4 linked regions of the Homo sapiens genome follow. The protein of the gene in region 4 purifies or fractionates together with the protein of the main gene of each other region. This does not show direct contact. Each region holds a gene or a part of one and is shown on either strand. Other genes may lie near its edges.

Region 1 (5,279 bases), about 32 Mb from region 4:
TGGCATGAAGGGAGCCTGTTCCAATATCTCCTCTTGGGGTCTGATAATTCAATGAGAGAACCAGCCAAGAGAATAAATTAGGGAACAGTCTCCTTGGTCTGTTTAGGACAACCTTTCACATCCTAATCTTTTACTTCCCATGTTTCCCTCTCGTTTGAAAATGAAATTTACCTTAGCTGACTAGCCTGCTTTTGTGTTCTGGTTGCAAAAATATTTTGTGAATTTATGATAATCGATACTTTTGAATTGTTTTTACCTTTCAAAGTGTATTCCGTTGAAAATACCATGGAACATTAAGGAAATGGTGGAGGATGGGGTGAGGAGGCTGGTAAGTGAATTGTTTCTTTCCTGTCAGAGAGCAAGATATTAAAACAAAAAGTGACAAATAAGATTGGCTTGGAAAAGTGCCTCTCCACAATTCAGAAAGTCAACCTACATTAGGCAAAGGCAACATTTCAAAGTGCAGAAAATCTGGCCCCAGGTATAGATAATGCCTGTGGTACAGAAAAAAAAGCATACATAACATTCAGGAACACCGCACTTGGAGAAATAAAACACATAAGTTATAAGTGATGTGGAGAGATCAAAGTACATATAAATATTTCAACACATCCTATTTTTACTAGGAAAGATATTCAGGTCTTAACACACTATCAGAGCTAAATTTAAATGTTTAACAGGATGGTTGTATACGGCCATTCCTACTGCTTCTGATGCTACACTTATTTATATTTACTGCACATGAGTCCTAAGTCTACATGAAAACTGATGTTCAACATCAAAATGTACACCCTTAAAGAAGGTAAAAGTGTAGGATCTTGCAAATGCTAGAAGCAGCTACTGCCTGTAAGTGAATCTTACACATCTCATCTAAATTCCTAAGCCTGCTCATTTGGTTAGACACCATGTAATCAAGTTCCTTTGGCAGGGGTTGAGTGATAAAGCTGAAGATTTTTGCTAGCCCCGTAGAGAAATGGGGAGAAATTTGGCAAGGCATCTTTGACGTGGCTCAGGAATTAGAAATATTGGAAATACAGACTAAGACTGGAAATTGGGTTTACTAAGATACTTATCTCACAAAACAAACTCTGTTGTTTATTAAAAAAATAAAACTAACTTTTGTTCCCTCTTTAGGTGTCATGTATACATAATCAAATCTAAAAGTATTTCTATTAGGGAAAAAACTGGGCCAATTACTGCTAAATTAGCTAAGTATGTGAAAATAAAATTTATACTACAGGAGGGGGAACTGTGTTTTTTTGTTCTGTAAATACGGAGTTAGCTATATTACATAAAGTTTCTACTATAAGGTAATATTAAAGAGTCACCCCTAAGCTCTAGGAATGAGTGTTATAATATATTAAGAAAGTCTATTCCTTTTCCTTGCTCATTTATAGTATTTGTAATTAAATAAGAAAAATATAGAATTTAAATAACATTCACACCAATACTTAAAGATTTATCATAAGGTCATAATTTGGTTTTAATTCTAGGTTATGGAAGCATAAAAATAGTCTTTGCTTTGTAATGTTCCTAGATGTCTAGTAAGAATTAAGTCCTATTAACATAAATATTAAGTAGGACATTATGTACTCTTCATTATCCTAAAATTTTAATATCCTAAACATTATAAGGAGTTAAACAGAAAACTGGATAAAATTAGAAAATAGAGTGCTTTCAATACACAGGGTTTAAAGATTTTTAACAATATTTCTTTAACAGGATTTGTCCTTCATTTTAAAGTTCTAGCAGACTGATATCTGAGTATGGAATTTCCAGAAACTACAACATATTGTTTGGGTGGAATAGGCCATGGCAATGGAACCTGTCCTGTTAGTATTGGCGGCTCCTGGATGCCAGCATTTGCCCCAGTTCACGAAGACTCCAGTCTACATAAATTCCATAAAGCATGGAATTTGTTTCTCTTCTAATAAAATGGAAGCAATAACATCTCACAGTTATAAGTTGATTTTAAAGTACACAAAAATACAACTATTTATGCCATGGAGTTACATGAATAATATTCCTAAGAGACTTTAAATCTTTAATACCCAACTTCTGTCAAACACTTTGAAGCACAAAACTATATTATGAAAGCATGTGGCATTCAATTTCTGACATTCATCGCCAAAGAAGGCAAAGCACAACACTAACACATCTCTGAAATGCAAATTCCATTAAGTGCAAATTTCTAAAACACAAGGTCAACCTAGAAACACGTTTTAAATTTCAACAAGTTCTCTTTTTAAATTAGTATGCTCAGTATATAATTTTCAAACACAATCTGAAGTGATTTTCTAACGTTTGTTCTCAGTCTAACTTTTGCTCCCTCATAAAAATATACTCTCATGGGTCCATTTTCAGTCTTCTAATTTTTGCAATTATTAGCTCAAAATATCTAACCTTTTAGGAACATCTTTTCTTTCCACATTTTCAAATATGAAAAAGGCTTTGCTTAAGTCTTACCGTAGGAACACCACCAGTAATAGCATTCCCTTCTGTTTGAGCTTAAAGTAAGTCTGAGCAGCTCCAAAGGGAGATATTTTCATGAAATTTATGAACCCTCTCAACCAGAGTTGAGAATTAGTGCAACTTCCTTCGAACTATTTGTCAAGTGAATACTGTAACTAGACACAGAAAGGGATAGTCATCCCAAGAACAAGGTACTATTTTTTGACTTTCTAACTCCACCTGGGCACAAGGGAGATGCAGAACCACGCTAATCCCAGGAGAACTTTGTAGACGCCCGAGGGTCTTACACTGAGCTGGAAAACGGAACCACCTGCTTTCCGCCCACATAAACCTCTTCAATATTTCGATCATCTCCTGAAAGAAAAATCAAGGAATCATGTATAAAATCCTTTTGTGTCAATAAGTATCTTCCTTGCCATTGGGAGAGATTTTTTTTAAAGATACTTCTAGGAGAGGAAATACTAAAAGCTGCTTTCCCCCAACCCTCAGATTGTTTATAATCTGAACAGGAAGATATGACTAGTAGAAAATGCCATAGCTAATTTGATGATTAGGGTCTGAATTCTGCACCAGAGGCAGAAATCACATAAAGTTGAATCAACCCCCTATAGCTGTCCTTTCTCAGCTGAAGTGGTTGGTTTACATTTTGCCCCCACTGAGAAAGAAATACTACTCTTTACGCTCCAGAATCAGCTCCACAAGAAGTAACACATGCATCTTTCCATCTTGAGTTCACTCAGTCCTGGGCTCACTGAACAGAATGGGAGGCAGTGTAGAATATTCTGCATTACTGTTTCTCTCTCTCTCAGTGAATGGAATTGAATGTGAGTACATCACCAGCACGTGTGGTGAGACTCTACTATACATTTGTCACAAAAACATGGCAGGGCAGTATGTCAGATACCGAATGAGTACAAGAGGGTTGAACATGAAGATCTCTTCACCTTTGGCCTTCCATTCCTCAGCTTAGAATTTATGACTAGAGGGAGTCATGTGCATTTCAAATAGAACCTTTAAATAATGTGCCACCAATGGGCTTGATGCTTCAGACTGTTAAAAAAATAATGAATCAAAGCAAATTATCATCCACAGAGTTTAATATATGGTAGGATAAATACATAGAGCCATACCCAAGAAAAAGACAGGGAAAGGTTCTATTTAATATTTAGCATAGAGACATGCATCTACCTACCTAGATAGAGGAACTTCTGGATAACAGCCTAAAATGGAAAATAAAAGTAATAAGAAAGACTCATTTGTGCATTTAGAAAAGTAAATTCACAGCTGATAGTGGTTGACAAAGCCCAGAAATACGAATTTGTTTCTCAATGGCAAAATCTACTTCTATTAATTAAAAAAGAAGTGGCTATGTGCTTTATAAAAACCTCCCAGAACAAAAAATAACCCACTGGCAATTAACAGAAGTTTACCTATTGTGTGAAAGTTCTGGGTATGTGAATTTTGAGTCATCAGAGAAAAGGTATTATATAAATTAAAGAAATTAATTTAGTAAAATAATTCAAATATTTCAAGACGGGTATGATGTAAGACAAGCTCATCCAACCTGCCTTATTTTGTTGTTGTTGTTCTGTTTTGTTATGTTTTGTTTTAGGCTTTTAGCAGCCTGAAGCCATGGTTTTTAGTTTCTGTCTCTACTGATAAGCAGAAAAGAGGGATGAGGGAGGGGGCTTTACTGGCACAACCTGAAACAGAAACTAAGAACTCCCTTGGACACCCCTGATATAAGAAAAATCACTAGGACTATTCCCTAGAGCCCTATTCTTAGAAATTTACTCTAATCAGAGAGTAAAAGAATAAGCAATATGAAAATAATGAGGGGGTCAGGACACGCTACCCTCAAATCAAACACAGGAAGGTCACTCTGACCCTCCCCTTACCCCTTACCCCAATGCAGGTCATAAGACCATCACGTAAGGGGTGCCCTCCCTATACCTGATCTCTGAAGCTAAAGGATCACAGAGAAGAATCTGAACAAGCAGGCCTTGCTAAGTTCTCTCTAGCTTATTACCACTGGACCACACTCTTTGTCCTATCATATTTCTCTACAACTTTCCACTCTTCATCAAACCTAGCATAAAAATATCCAAGTTTACCTGTTTCTTGGGTTCTTCACTTCCTTATGAAGGCACCTATGTCACATAAAATTTATATTAAATAGGCCGGGTACAGTGGCTCACGCCTATAATCCCAACACTTTGGGAGGCCAAGGCAGGTGGATTACCTGAGGTCAGGAGTTCAAGACCAGCTTGGCCAACATGGTGAAACCCTGTCTCTACCAAAAATACAAAAATTAGGTGGGTGTGGTGGTGGGCGCCTGTAATCCCAGCTACCTGGGAGGCTGAGACAGGAGAGCTGCTTGAACCCAGGAGGCAGTGGTTGCAGTGAGCTGAGATCATGCCATTGCACTCCAGCCTGGGCGACAAGAGCAAAACTCCGTCTCAAAAAAATTTATATTAAATAAATGTGTATGCCTTTCTCCTGTTAAATCTGTCTCTTGTTATAGTGACCTCAGCCTTGACCCTAAGATGGGTAGAGAAAAATATATTTTTCCTCTTTTATAATAACAAATGGTACAAACTTCATATAATACAGAATTTTTCTTTTAAAATCTTTAACATATTTATTATCGCAATTACTCTCACAAGTAGATCAATTTAGAAATGGCAATACTTAATTCTTTTTTTAGGAAGAACTCAATATCTTACAAGGAATTATTTTTCAGGTAAGATGAACTAGTTTATTTTATCCATAGAAAAACATTTTATAATAAGAGAAACAAAGTTCAT
Region 2 (5,279 bases), on a different chromosome or scaffold from region 4:
CCACAGGAAAGTGGCGGGGAGGGAGAACAGGCAGGGTGCAGGAGGCAGCTGGAGCCCTGCACTTCTGTGCCGGGTGACTGTCACTGCCACGGCCTGGGAGGTGTCCAGAGTGGGCTGGCCGCGGCTAGGGTTTGCCTGTGCCGTGGCTGCTGCAAGGCCTACTTCATTTTCCTCCCCATTCCCTCACATGCAGTCCTTGTCAGCAGGAGCATCCGGAAGGACCTCCCTGCCTACCCTGGAGCCGCCTTCACCTGACAGCCACAAAGTCGGTGTTTAAAGAAACCCATGGTTACCAGGCGGGACTCATTTCCATCAGCAGAATCTTCATGATGATTTGTGTGTTTACCTGATGTTATTCAAGTTGAGTATAAGTTGGTCACCTTTGGTGTAAAACTGAGCTTCCGAGCTGGCTTCCTGCAACAAGAGAAGCCCAGGCCCCATTGTTCTCAAGAGGATCCGAGTGTGGAATTAGGGGTTATGCAGGGAGGCTCTGGGGTCTGAATCTCAGTTCCTGGCTCTGGGACCTTGGCAAAGGGTTTGACCTCTCTGGGCCTCACCTGCCTCATCTGTTAAATGAGATAGTACTTGCCTCCACTCCCCATTTAACAGATGACAGTCTAGGCTTGCTGTGGGGAATGATAATGATGACGATGACGACGACGAAAGCAGCCACTATTCATAGAGCCCTCACTCCCTTACCCTAGTGTGTAGGTGGCCCAGCTCAGGAAGTTTTCATATTCCATTTTTCTGGACACACTGATTGGCTCAAGAATGGGCAACTGACTCAGGCTCATTCAGTGAGAGTCAGCCCTGAGATGTTTGCTGGAACTATTGGAAAGATAGGTTCTTCCTGCGGTGATTGCCAAGCTGATAGGATATGAGCCTAATGCAGCCTGGGGCACTACCATGAGGGAATAGCTTGCCTGAGGATGAAGGCAGCACAGAGGAAAACAAGGCTGCTAGGTGGGAGAGAGGAGAATGAAGAGGATATTGTTTGAGCACCTGGGTCCAGCTATTCCCGAAGTCAATAGCATCTAGACTTTTTAGTTATAGGAGCTAATACAATTCCTTTTGTGCATATGAGTTGAGTTTCTGTCCAGAGATTCCTGACTAAGAAAGTCACAGGGTTAGAATTGGACCCACAAAGCTCCTGGCTCTTGGTTCAGAGCTCCCTGTCCCCTGTCCCTGCTAAGTGATGAGAGTGGTGGAAATGTTTAACAAAGCAAGAGGGCGAACAGGAAAAGTAGACAGAAGGGTCCCCCTGGTTGCTGCCAATATCGCAGACAACTGAACTCACGATGCCCAGGGTGAACAAAGGGCGGAGGGCTTCACTGGAGGGAAACACTTCCAGCACGATCAGTTGGGCCACCTTGGCATGGCCTTGGTCTATAAAAAACTCGGGAGTGTCCTGAGTTAGGATCTTCACGATCTGGGTAGATCCCAGCTTATCTGCAGCCTGGAAGGAGATCAGACCCACATGTGGCCTCCCAAGTGCCCACCATGGCCCACAGGCTCTGTGTGTGGCCTGGCCCCTGCCTGCCTTCCTGGGCTCCCTGCTCCCTCACGTGTTCCAGCCACCCTGTCCTTCTTGCAGATCCTTGAATGTTGTGTTGTTCTCCCTACCTGGCAGCCTTTGGTCTCCTGTTCCCTCTGTCTGGAATGCCCTTCCCTTCAGGGAGGCCTCCCTGACGTCCCAGACTGTATCAGGGGCCCAGAGTGTTCTCATGGCCCCTAGAACCTGTCCTGTGTTACTGCAGCTGTAATGGAAATACTATCCATGTGATGATTTGCTTCAGGTCAAACTGGCCTGCTAGACTGAAATCTCTGTGCGGACAGGGATGCGGTTTGAGTGTCCCAGTGCTGGAATGAAACACTAGTCCCACTAGATTCTCCTCCCCAGAGGCCTGTGTCCAGACCACAGCAAACACCCCTCAAGCTGCAGATGGCAAACAGACCAACCTTTTCATTGATCAGCCCGATGCTTGACTTCAGCCGATGGGCACTCTCAGGAAGCTGAGGGTGAGAGGAGCCAGAGAAGGTCAGTTGGAGGGCACAGGGAGGCACATCTCCTGCACCCCACTGCTGGGAGGAAGGTTTCCCAGGACCCCAGAAAAGCTGGGTGGGCCCAGTGACCCAAGCCATGTGTCTGTCATTGGTGGAAAAACAGCCCCTAGGTCAGCTTCTATGGGGCATGGGGTCCTGCTGGCCTGGACTTTTACTGTGGGCTGGTGATGGTTGTGGGTCTGGGGGCAGCTTCCTGATCTCAGAGGACATAGAGAGGTGATTTCATTTTTACTGCAATCATGAATGGGCTAGTTGGTGACCACTCCCTATTTTCTCGCCATCCCAGTCCCCTGAGAGCTTGGTTATTGGTTGTCTGTCAGCTGCCCTGAAGTTCTGCCATCCTCCCATAACGTTGGACCAACCCTTTCCCCCTCTGGACCTCAATTTCCCCGTCAGTCACCCGGGAGGAGGTGGCACAACATAGTTGACTGGTGGTGGTTATCGGCTGTGCCCTGTTAATAAGGATTCCAAGGTTGTGTCAGCATCCAGACTCAGTAGAAAGGAGAGCCTTGATCGATTAGTGATGTCTGCCATGAGTGTCATAGTGGTGAGCAGTGGCACAGTCGCCATCCCTGGACTACTCACTATCTGAGATGTATTTATCACCCCTGGACTACTGCATATCTAAGATGCCTTTTGATTTCACGAGACTGTTATTTGGTAGAGGAAACATTTGCATCAGATTCCAGAGGGTAGAACCATGACTGGGGCTGGATGTTACCGGGAGGATTTTAGGTTTAGAGCTATGTCAGAGGCAGGGTCTATTAGAGGAGGGAGTGAGATCTCCATTAAACTGAGCCTGATGGAGGATTCCTGCTTAGGGGCACCCTGTGTTCAGGAAATTCCTATGATGTGGCCTGGGCGGCCCTATTCTCTGCCTTGTGCTGAGGTTTACCACAGAGTCCAACAGGACCATGAATTCTTCTGGAGAGAGCACAGCAGCCACTGCAGCTTTCACCACGTCCTGACTCACGATGAGGCTGAACGGGATGTTGTCCAGGGTGGGCATTGTCAGGGAAGCTGCAGAGTTATTGAACCACTTGGTCACCTTTCCCTGTGAGTCCAACAACTTGGCCTGAGGAGACAGAGCAGGGAGTCAGCTAAGAATTTTAACTCTGCAGCTTACCCAATAGCAACCTAGAAGGAAATGACACCATTCAGCCTGTTTCCTTTTTGTGCATTTGTTGCCAGGAAGCTTAGCCTGGAGCTCAGGTGTGTGGCAACATCTACTCCATCTTTGCCCCTCGGATAATCTCTGACTTTTATTTTTTGTACCAGATATCTTCGTTTTTTTTCCCATGCTTCAACTTCTCAGACACCTCAAACCCTTTGGATGGAGGGAAAATTAAAAACTACAACAAAATGGAAGAAACGATTTGATGCTGCAGTTTTCCAAAGGATCCATAGAAACTAGTCCAGGGGCCAGGCGTGTTGGCTCATGCTTGTAATCTTAGCACTTTGGGAGGCCGAAGTGGGAGGATCATTTGAGCCCAGGAGTTTGAGACCAGCCTGGGCAACATGGCGGAACCCCATCTTTACAAAAAATACAGAAAATTAGCCAGGCGTGGTGGCGAGTGCCTGCAGTCCCAGCTACTCAGGAGGTTGAGGTGAGAGGATCGCTTGAGCCCAGGAGGTCAAGGCTGCAGTGAGCTGTGATGGCACCACTGCACTCCAGCCTGGGTGACAGAGTGAGACTCAGTCTCAAAAAAACAAAACAAAAGAAACCTAGTCTGGGATTCATGCTACCAGGATGGTCTGGCCCTTTGGGGCGTCCAGCCACAGCATGGCTGTGCAGCTCCACATTGGACAGGGAGCTGACAGTTACTGGGCACTTCTGGTCTGCCAGGCATGGTGTGGTCTCATTTCATCCTCTCCTCAGTGGCCATTATTACTGACATTTTGCAGACAAGGAAACTGAGGCTCAGGGAGGTAAAGGAACTTGCCCAAAGTCACATAGCCAGGGAATCATAGAGCTAGGAGAGAAACTTAGGTCTGTGTTTCTTGATCCTTGGCTTTTGTTTCAAGGTTGTCATAGGTTTGGGGATTGGCAGGGACTTGCCTGAGAGAAAGGCTGAGGGCCCAGTGTCCCCACTCGGGCCCCCCCATGTCACTCTGGGTGACAGTGAGACTCAGTCTCAAAAAAACAAAACAAAACAAACTTGCATGGGACATATTCAGCCTGCAGTGATTTTTCTAGATCAGCCCGTGTCCTAATGGTGACCAGGATTTTCTCTCCTAACACAGGCCCATGCTATCTGACTCCTGGTGGTCAGAGAAGGGCAGCAATGTCCCCACTTCACCCTCAAGGTCCTGGGACACTCACCCCCAGGTAGAGCTGAATGGTGTCACCCTTGATGGCAGGATACAGAAGGTCAAACTCCAGACGGTCAATGCTGAGGGAAATGGGCACTGCTCAAGGACAAGAAGAAAGTTCTGTGAGGGTGGAGGGCAGTATTGGAGGGGGAAGTTGGGGGGCTGCTTCCAGGTGGAGCTGTACTGTTGCATGGGGGGGCAGGTAGGGAGGAGCAGGTAATAATGATGTTGATAATAATGATGCAAACAGTGATGACAGTGACATTTATCGAGCATCCACTAAGTGCCAGGCCTCTGCATGTCAGCTGGTTCATCTGCATGATAACGTTAGGAAGTAGGTCTTATTATTACCCCCTTTTACAGATGGTGAAACCAAGTCTGAGGAAAGGGAAATGACCTGTTCAAAGCCATACTATGAGAGCATGGGAACCCAGTCGGTTTTATGCCAAAGTCCCGGTTTGGAACGGAACTGAACTATTGTATGTAACACTCCACCGCCCCTACCAGACTGAAAGCCGCGTCCCCCATGCAGGTGGTTCTGGGTCTGGACACCCTATGAGCACCTGGATCTCAAGGAAGCTTAGGCTGGAAGCCAGAGGCCTGGTAACATCTACTCTGAAATCCAAACTGGCTCCTCTGCTCCCCCCAAAGATCTCGTGTTCGCGTCAGAATTCCCCACTTGGCCGCCAGGTGGCGGTGGTGTGTCACCTGCCCCGGTGTATGGCCGAGGATGGGGAGTGCTGGAGGGCCAGGGACCGGCCGCCTACCGCTCCAGGGAGACCTCCGGGCCCGTCCTCGGGGCAGCGGAGGAGCCAGCTGGACTTCGGTTTGAGCCCCAGTGACCTTGGCTGGTCTCTTCTCGCGTCTGAATCTGTTTCCTCGTCTTAAAATGAGGGTATAGT
Region 3 (5,279 bases), about 32 Mb from region 4:
AATTTTAATTGAACACAGCACATAGCTCCAGGCTCCTACTTTGAAGTAGCAAGCTAGCTGTTCTACTGTATATTAATATATTATAGGAACACAATAAATGTTTCCTTAATTGAAGATTTTTTTCCACGTCTTATCTGGTATTAATCAAGATATGCAAGAATGACAGCTCATTTTTTTTCTAATTTTGTATATTGTAGTTAAATACTTGGTGAGCATATATATAATGTATATACACATTATATATGTATACAGACACACATATATACACTCACCAAACACTTAACTGCAATATACAAAATCAGGAAGTCTAACAGCTGAAACAAATAGGACTAAGAGCACATAGAAGGTAGGGAGTGATAGAGGGGATGAATGCTGTTTTCAAATACATGGATGGCTGTTATATAGAAAGAGTCTATAGGGCAAAGGTGGAACCAGAAAGTAGAACCTATATATTTATCTCTTTTGTGGTGAGAACACTTAAAATTGACTCTCTTAGCAATATTCAAGTATACAATACATTGTTATTAATTACAGTCAGGATATTTACGATAGCTCTCTTGAACTTACTCCTCCTAATTGAAAGTTTGAATCCTTTGACCAACATTTCCCAACCCTCATCCTCCACTCCCCCAAGCCCCTGGTAACCACCATTCCAATCTCTGCTTCTATGAGTTCTACTCTTTGAGATCCCACATAAAAGTGAGACCCTGCGGTATTTGTCTTTTTATGCCTGTCATATTTCATGGAGCATAAATTTTCCAGGTTGTTGCTGCAAATGACAGGATTCTTTTCCATTGTTTTAAAGCTGTGAAGGCAGCACCTGAAAATTGTTAAGCATCCAGATCTGTGTTGGCTGAACATTTGTGGCTGGCCCCATGGATCCCTTACTACTTTTTAGTATCTATCACAAATAACTTAAACCTCTATCAAGAACAGAATAAAGAGTAAGGTTTAGAGGGAAAGATGTTCCAAAGAGCTGGGAATTTTAAAGTGACACTTTGTATACACACAAACAGACAAAACATGGCAACAAAAAGAACAGAACAGAATGAAGCCATTTACCTCCTCTTTGGCAATGCGCATCTCATCTGTAACATTAGAGAACACTGTGGGCTGGACAAAGTAGCCTTTATTCCCCCACGGGCCTCCTCCACATTCCAGTTTGGCCCCTTCTTTCTTCCCACTCTCAATGAGGTCAAGTATTTTATCATATTGTTCCTTGTCAATCTATTTGAAAAATATCACATGAAAAGAAAAAAAGTAGTCACTTGTAAAGATAACACATTGCTGGGCCTGTTAACAAGGGCTTCAAAATGCTAAAATATTGCAATTAAACCAAATATTGAATCGAAACAGCTAACAGAGGTTCAGATTCATTCTTTGGATATATTTTCTTCTCATGACTTTTAGGGGAAAATCTCTTGAAGACAGATATTTGTATTTAACATTTGTTTTATAGTTATATAGGAAAGCATTCAGCACTGCAAACACATAAAAAACACATAAATGACAATCATCATTTATTCACTCTGGAAGAAATGCCTGTTAATCTAAATACATTTACCTGGAAACTATTGTCCCGGCTGAAATGAAAGGAGGGAAAAGAGAAAAACAGAACTTTGATACTGAGTTTAATTAGATCTGTTGGGAAGCAGATGCTTTAAGACTGTTCTTAGAAGACTCCCGAGCCTCTGTTTGATCTCCCCATTTCTGAATCACCCACTCTGACCTGTCCGATGCCCTTGGATATCCCATTCTGACCATAGTCTGCGCACCCTTCCCAGTTCTGGTCCCACTGGGGCAGTCAGTAAATCTGCTTCCAATTTCTGGCCTGTCCTGAATGTCACCATCCTGCTTCATTAAATGAGCCACATCTAACTATGTGCCAAGTATTACAGAACTTAAATCGTCTTTATTTAAACACTATTTTTATAAGGAAAATAAATGAGTTTGGAGTTCTGGTTGTGAACACCAGGAACACGTACCTCTTCAAGCACTGAAATCTGGGGCTAATTTTTGTCTCAATTTCTATTTTGTGACATTGAATAACTGGGTGACTCTTGGATTCCAAGTAACCGGTGAGGGCTGCCTATCTCAGGTGTAGCAGGGGTTAAGGATTAAAGGAAAAACAGGAGATCTAGGAGCTAAGATGGGTTGGAGGGTGGAAGCTCTTGTAGGTTTAACTTCCCACTACTTGAAAAGTTTTATGTTTCACTTTCTCTTACTCTTCTCTGACTCTGCAAATCTTCTTTATCTTCCAAAGCCAAGAAAAAGCTTCCATAAAGTTATTTCTAACTGAATACAGCTCAGCCCCCATATCTAACTAGATTAAGCACTATTTGAAACTAGAAACTATTTTCTAAAATTTGGCACAATATTTGGTACAATGTTGCTCAACAGTCTTTAGTGCAATATTTAATATAATATCCCAGAAGGAAAATATTCCTTCATTTCCAGCAGATTAAGAAAAAAATAGTGTTAAGAAGAAATATTTAAATTACTACATAGGTTGAATAGTAGCAGACTAAGGGGTGGGGTGAGATAAATTCTGCCTGGGTAAGGTATTCTAGTTTCTCAATAAATAGTCAAGGGTCCATGTCACTCCACATAAAGCTTTCTGTCTTATTGGAACATATTAATCTGACTATGCCCTCAACATCATGATATCTGGTTTTTATTTCAAGATGTATTTCCCAAGTCATGTTTTCCTGTCTGTGACCACGTTGAATAACCAGTGCCAATCAAATCCCTGCATACATACTGGAGAAAAGGGCTGAAAAGCCTTATTTGTTGGAAAACTTAGATGGTCGCTAACTTATAAAACTACAGGCCTTTGTATTTCAGTGCCTTGCTACCGACAATGTGGTCCTACAACCAGCAGTTGTGGCATCACTTGGTAGCCAAATGTGCTTCTTTGACCCCACCTCAGATCTACTGAATCCCCGGGCACAGGAAAGATTGAGGAACACTGTGGTGGAGCTTGGGACTACAAACAAAAAATTAGGCTCTACTTAGAGACTGGTCAGTTTTGTCTGGCTAATTTTGATTCACCACAAATACAGACCTTCTTCAGAAGGCATCAGGCTGACCATATATAAACTTGACCTTCTTTCTGGACACCTGGGACTGTCCAATAATGCTAGGATGTAGCTGGGGCTCTTTCATGTGATGGGCCATTGGCCTATGGGCTAGTCTATGAAATGTATTAGGTAGGTCATGATATGGTAACAGTCTCAAAGGAAACATTTTAAGGTGTTTGAATGGGTAAATTCTTTGATTCCTTAGGCTTAATGGGTTAAAGAAGATGAATTGGGAAAAAGCACTTACATGTTCTCAAATTATTCAGAAACCATGTATCAACAAAAGCAATGAATAGATATAGAAGTAATTGATCTGTATGATAATTGTCACCATGGGTATAAATGGAAGCATGTAATTTTTATTTATTTACTAGACATTTGAGCATGTGGACCAAGCACTCTGATGGATACATTTTATAGATTATCCAATTGCACTGCAGAATTATTCTTCAAGATTGAGGTTTCTATGCACATTCTACACATAAGACAATAGTTTCAGGGAGGCTGGATTTTAAATCCAGTTTAAATCCTATATAACTGTAACTCCAAAGTCCATCTTTCCACACTATTATAAGGTGCTACTCTGTGATAATTTTAGTATCGTTTATGTGGCTATCACAATTTCTGTTTCAAATGAAAATACTAATTTTTCCAAGTTTAAGACAATATATATTTTTTCTATAAAGTCAAATAGGAAAATCACTTGAAATATGAAAAAGATACACACATGAATCCACAGATATAATACAAATATGCAAAGTATATATATATATTTTGTAATTGCTCTAACCCCCAAATAATTTGTAATGTTCAAATTTTTTTAAACTTTAATTTTTTCCCCTAAAACAAATCGTTTTGACCATTATTTTTTCTATAACCTTTTTGATGTTATATTTAATGAGGAAGATTCCATCATTGTATTTAAAAGCCTCAGTTCACTCAACCACCCCTGGATGAGGCAATAGGCTAAAGCTTAGTGAGTGAGTATCCCCTTTGCGTAAGTTTTTTCTCCTAACAATAGATGAATATTTAATGGTAAAGGAGCCCAGGGCTTTTTAGTCTTTTGTTTCTCCAAATTCTAACATACCTACTTATCCTACTGACTCAATGGAACTTGTGATAAAAATCTATTCACTTATAGAAACTAAATTCTTATATTAATCAGATCACTGGATTCTATTCATTTATAGAAACTAAATTCTAGATCACTGGATTATTTACTTTAGAATCTTACAAATAGGAATTTTTAAGTCTATTTTAACTTCCTTATCTTAAAATCAATGAGGTATTCCAGCTCAATTTTTGAGTCTTTGGTTGAATTGTGAAGATGTCCTAATGGAGGAAAGTACTGCCCAACAATTAGGCATTAGGTATCTTAGGTATTCTCTCCTCTCTTCAGATCTATCAATCAATCATCCATCAATCCATCAACAAAATAAGAAAAGTGCTTCACTTTTAGTTAGATAGATAAATAATCACAACAAAAAACATAGAATTCCATTCTTTTTTGAAATGGGAGACCAAGTCAAAACTGATTTGAATATATCTCTTGGCATCCATATACCAAATATGAAAAAAAGGGCAACTACTTTTAAGTACTCATTAAACTCAAAGACAAATACAAAATATAATGGGATTAAGATAAAACAAAGTATTACCTCACTTGCCGCTTATTTTAGGGCCTTTAGATTTCAATATGTTACACTGCCTAAGTCCTAAGATTTTCCTACTTGGATGTCTTGAGATGAACAGGAAAATCCAAGACTGTCCAACTTACTTGGACTGTAAACTCCATGAGGTCCGGGATCAAGTCCTCTTTGTTCTTTTTGGCATTGCCAGGTACCCATCTCAAGTTTTAGCTGATAGCAACGTTCACTAACTTTTAGTTAATTGAATTTACTTTTGGCTTAGTGAATGAGTCAAGAATAGCGTTTGGTTTCAAATTGACAGCACGCATCAGTGTAAAACCTTTATTGTGAAAGAACAGAGCCTCTAAGCTTAATGTCTAGACTCCAGAGCAGGATTTCTCGGCAGTTGTCCTGTTGGCATTTTGGGCCAGATAATTCTTTGTCATGGGGCTGTCCTGGTCACTGCAAGATGTTTAGCAGCATCTCTGGCCTCTACTCACTAGATGCCTGTAGAGCCACCGCTTCTCACCAAGGTAGTGACAACTTAAAATATCCCTAGACATTGCCAAAT
Region 4 (4,803 bases):
ATCTAGTAGTGATTATAGAAAGATCAATTATCATGCCTATTCTGTAATTAGTGACAACTCCGCTAATCTAAATGCTTTAATTCCCTGAGTTACATTTCTACTAAAAAATCTTGTAACACCATATTCTATGAGGTCAAATTTAGAGAACTGCTAAAGTCTAATGGGCGAGGTGCTTACCCCATGCTCTGTGCTTTCTAATGATAGACCTCTTTTCCACCAAAAGAAATGACACTTTTTCTGCCTGATTTTAGAGCCTTTCTATATGCACCTGTCAGGCTTTCTTTCTCAGATGTGTTTCCCACCACTCTTTCACAGAAACTCCCTTGTGCTGCCAGTCGGCTTACTCCTAACTTTGGTCCAACTTCTCACTTTTGAGATATCCCTTTTCTCTTTTAACCCTGTCTAATTCTTTTCCATACTCCCAGGTTCAGCTGAACACTGAAACTCCGGAGTTCTCCTTGGCCTAATTTATTTCTCATAAAATTCTTCCTTCTGGGAAAAACTGTAATTTTCATGTAAGCTATAGAAAGTGACTGTAAATTATTTTGATATGTTCTTTTCTTATATCCCTACCTAAATTGTGAACTTTGTAATGACAGGCACTTTAAAAATGCTGCTTTTTAAAAATATGTGTTTCAATAATATTTTTAAAGGGTATTTTAAAAAATGGTGTCAATCTGGAGTTTCCGTAAAACATCAAAGAATTATGCTCTTGACATTTTCAAGGTTCTTATTGCCAATCTACACAATAAGGCAAAAAAAACTGGCTTGAATTAGAAACATCTAGATAATTGGCCAACTTAGTATAGACTAAGCCTTGCTACTCAAGTGATTTTGGGACCAGTGGCATAAGCGTCACCTGGGCACCTGCAAGAAATGCAGAATCTCAGGACTGGCCTGAACACTAAAAGAGAATCTGAAGGTTTTTAGGTTTCCCAGATGTTTGCCGGGTGTGGTGGCTCATGCCTATAATCCCAGCATTTTGGGAGGCTGAGGTGGGCAGATCACAATGTCAAGAGATGGAGACCATCCTGGCCAATATAGTGAAACCCCGTCTCTACTAAAAATACAAAAGTTAGCTGGGCATGGTGGTGCACGCCTGTAGGTGGAGGTTGCAGTCAGCCCCGATCGTGCCACTGCACTCCAGCCTGGTGACAGAGTGAGACTCTGTCTCAAAAAAGAAAAAAAAATTCCTAGATGCTTTACGTGTATATGAAAATTAGTGAAGCCAAGAACTAGACTTTGTGTCGAAAATATTAGCTTTACATTACATTTTATTATTTACTACCTAGTTAATCTTGGCCAAGTTCCATATTTTATAGTTGAAAAATGGGGTTAATATAAAGAATATTATAATTTGTAAATGGTAAAGTGGTATACATACACATGTATACATATTTATATGAAATATTTAAACATTATTACTGTTTTTATTGGTTGATTTAAATGAGTAAATTATCAAGACAGACTCTTAAGCTACAGAGTAAAATATGTAAAGACACTATATAATGTTCTCCAAAGACTATCACATTCATGCGGAGCTGTTCTGGGCAATGGTCTTGTCATAGGAACAGTCATAACAAGATACTATGAGATCAACAACTAACTATGCCTTTAAACAATTGTCAAATTTCAGGGTATGTGATTCAATGTATTATTATTAAGTGTCTGTAAAATACACAATTAAACTAACTATAAGGTATTAGTATCAGGCCTAGAAAAAAATATAAACACACAAAAATGTCAAAGTTGCTGTGAAATTTTAAACACTTTATAAATTGCTGAATTAAAATTCCAGTCTTTGTTGAGTAGTCTTTTGCCCCCTTTACTGCTTGTTTGCTGGGGTTGATGAAATGAAGATGTTAAGCTTAGAGTTGTTGATTGGCCAGGGGTTTTAGAAACCTCAGCTCGGGAGAGTGTCCTCAACTCAGGAACATGTCCTCAACAGCAGGAAAGGTTCCGTCTGCATGTGTGTCTGATCGTGGGTAGATCTTCACATATTGGCGATGCGGTATAGGTGCTTCCATCATTCCCAATTTCATTGTATTCTAGTCACACACATTACTGAAGATAACTGGATGTCAGAACTTCAAGCAAGCACTCCTTCTAATATGTGTCAAAAGAATGATTGTTCAGTTAATTTGTACTGTTTGTTTCTTGGCAGTAAATACATTTCATGTTAGATCTTCTTTTGATTTCCTGAAAGCAGATGACATGGGTGAGATTAACCAGACACTTGTGTCAGAATTTCTTCTTCTGGGTCTTTCTGGATACCCAAAGATTGAGATTGTTTACTTTGCTCTCATTCTAGTTATGTACCTAGTGATTCTAATTGGCAATGGTGTTCTAATCATAGCCAGCATCTTTGATTCTCATTTTCACACACCAATGTACTTCTTCCTGGGCAACCTCTCTTTCCTGGATATCTGCTATACATCCTCCTCTGTTCCCTCAACATTGGTGAGCTTAATCTCAAAGAAAAGAAACATTTCCTTCTCTGGATGTGCAGTGCAGATGTTCTTTGGGTTTGCAATGGGGTCAACAGAATGTCTGCTTCTTGGCATGATGGCATTTGATCGTTATGTGGCCATCTGCAACCCACTGAGATACCCCATCATCCTGAGCAAGGTGGCGTATGTATTGATGGCTTCTGTGTCCTGGCTGTCCGGTGGAATAAATTCAGCTGTGCAAACATTACTTGCCATGAGACTGCCTTTCTGTGGGAATAATATTATCAATCATTTCGCATGTGAAATATTAGCTGTCCTCAAGCTGGCCTGTGCTGATATATCCCTCAATATTATCACCATGGTGATATCAAATATGGCCTTCCTGGTTCTTCCACTGATGGTCATTTTTTTCTCCTATATGTTCATCCTCTACACCATCTTGCAAATGAATTCAGCCACAGGAAGACGCAAGGCATTTTCCACGTGCTCAGCTCACCTGACTGTGGTGATCATATTTTACGGTACCATCTTCTTTATGTATGCGAAACCGAAGTCTCAAGACCTGATTGGGGAAGAAAAATTGCAAGCATTAGACAAGCTCATTTCTCTGTTTTATGGGGTAGTGACACCCATGCTGAATCCTATACTCTATAGCTTGAGAAATAAGGATGTAAAAGCTGCTGTAAAATATTTGCTGAACAAAAAACCAATTCACTAATGAAACCAGGACATGTAGGTCTTTGTTTAACAGTCACAAAGATGGACTCTTAGGTAAATCAGCCTGAACCTTTTTTGGAGAAACCATGGTTAGAGAGACAGATTTTTATCCTTTGCCTTTACTAGCCCTGCTCATCTAGAATCACTGATAACTATAGTTTGCTACAAACTCCAGCATGCCCTGATCCACGTTTCACAAACATAATTAATTCTCTTAGAATCTCATCCCTTGTGATGTCTGAAATGAGTGTTTCTGTGTAGAAACATAGTGGAAAACAATCACACTATAAGCTTTGGAAATAGAGAGCAATAGTACAAAATCTGCAGTTCCGTAAACTACCTAGGTGATATTGGATAGATTATTCTTTCTTTCTAAGACATAGTTACCTTACTTGTAATAAGGAAATAAAATAATAAAAAAATCCAGGTCCCAATATCATTTAATGTTTCAATAAGTTGGAGGAAGCACCTAACATAATACTGGCTTCACAGTGTCCAAGAATTTCAGAATTGAAGCTAAGACTCCATAGTGAGGACTAAAAGTTGCTATTTATCCCCTCTTTTACTCTCAGCTAATAATTACTAGAGCCAGATGTCTCACTGAAAGTCACCCCATTAAGGTAATATTTTCTAAAATTTTAAAATTCAATATTTTCTAAAATTCTAAAAAAAATAAAAAAGAATTAAAAAAAGAAAAATTGGCCACCTCCCAAATATATCATTCTAATGTTTCTCTTAGTAAGTAGGAATCATGTATTCATCATGTTTTTATTTTGATTTATTAGATCTACTATGAGCACTTGGGCCAAATTTTTTTTTAATGTCCAACACATGTTTTCACAGGATAAATTCTAAGGCATGAAATTAATAGGCCAGGTGGTATAAACTTTTAAAGTTCCTGGCTAACTTACCATTGGAAAGGTCGTATTACTACCCTAAATACCATTATATGTTTCCCCCAATATGTTTGCAGCTCTATTTAAATACATACGCATACACACATATATCTCCATTTATACATACACACATTTGTGTTTATATATATATAAGAATATTTTTTCTTTAAAACATTTTTTTGAGAATTTTCATTTTCAAATATTTAACAAAAGAATGAGAATAATGAAAGTCAATGTATAATTGCACAGCTTAAATAATTACACATGGTCAACCTTCTTTCATCATTATCCATACCCACTTATCTTCTTCCTTTACTTTAAAGCAAATTCTGGACATAATTACATCATGTTATATATTATGTAATTATGTCCAGGACATCTGTGTGTGTACATATTTAAATGACACAAATCCAACGATCCCCATTCACATTGTAGTCTATGAGAATGCACTTCCAGAACACAAGTTGTGATATGAATGATGCCTCCTCCAATTAAGAATAAGACAGTGCTGGTGAGGACTGTGAACCATGAAAAGGGCACATGAGTCACATAAAAGACGTTATTTCTTACTTCAGTGGGTTGTTGCCATAAGATAATTCAGGATGTATATTGACTGATTTTCTAAATTTCAAGAAAAGCCTGGACATCATAGTGAGACCATGTCTCTACAAAAAATTAAAAATTAAAAATTAATCAGGTATGATGATGCACGGCTATGGTCCCATTTACTTGGGAGGCTG

Evidence for each region. Proteins that work in one complex are often made in the same cells at the same time.
Region 1: the proteins of OR13C3 (region 4) and GDA purify together in Homo sapiens (affinity purification with mass spectrometry; one large-scale study listed by BioGRID and IntAct). This does not show direct contact.
Region 2: the proteins of OR13C3 (region 4) and BPIFB1 purify together in Homo sapiens (affinity purification with mass spectrometry; one large-scale study listed by BioGRID and IntAct). This does not show direct contact.
Region 3: the proteins of OR13C3 (region 4) and ALDH1A1 purify together in Homo sapiens (affinity purification with mass spectrometry; one large-scale study listed by BioGRID and IntAct). This does not show direct contact.

The regions. Positions count from the first base shown.
Region 1 is NC_000009.12:72,245,819-72,251,097, reverse strand, and holds part of GDA (guanine deaminase), read right to left. Parts: intron 3,693-5,279; coding exon 3,665-3,692; intron 2,827-3,664; coding exon 2,756-2,826; 3' UTR 349-2,755; coding exon of another isoform or gene 260-348; 3' UTR 1-259. UniProt on the Homo sapiens protein: Catalyzes the hydrolytic deamination of guanine, producing xanthine and ammonia.
Region 2 is NC_000020.11:33,299,093-33,304,371, reverse strand, and holds part of BPIFB1 (BPI fold-containing family B member 1 precursor), read right to left. Parts: exon of another isoform or gene 4,519-5,279; intron 4,474-4,518; coding exon 4,388-4,473; intron 3,140-4,387; coding exon 2,960-3,139; intron 2,014-2,959; coding exon 1,960-2,013; intron 1,457-1,959; coding exon 1,298-1,456; intron 415-1,297; coding exon 347-414; intron 1-346. UniProt on the Homo sapiens protein: May play a role in innate immunity in mouth, nose and lungs. Binds bacterial lipopolysaccharide (LPS) and modulates the cellular responses to LPS.
Region 3 is NC_000009.12:72,910,896-72,916,174, forward strand, and holds part of ALDH1A1 (aldehyde dehydrogenase 1A1), read right to left. Parts: intron 1,228-5,279; coding exon 1,063-1,227; intron 1-1,062. UniProt on the Homo sapiens protein: Cytosolic dehydrogenase that catalyzes the irreversible oxidation of a wide range of aldehydes to their corresponding carboxylic acid.
Region 4 is NC_000009.12:104,534,135-104,538,937, reverse strand, and holds OR13C3 (olfactory receptor 13C3), read left to right. Parts: upstream 1-2,081; 5' UTR 2,082-2,214; coding exon 2,215-3,168; 3' UTR 3,169-3,189; downstream 3,190-4,803. UniProt on the Homo sapiens protein: Odorant receptor.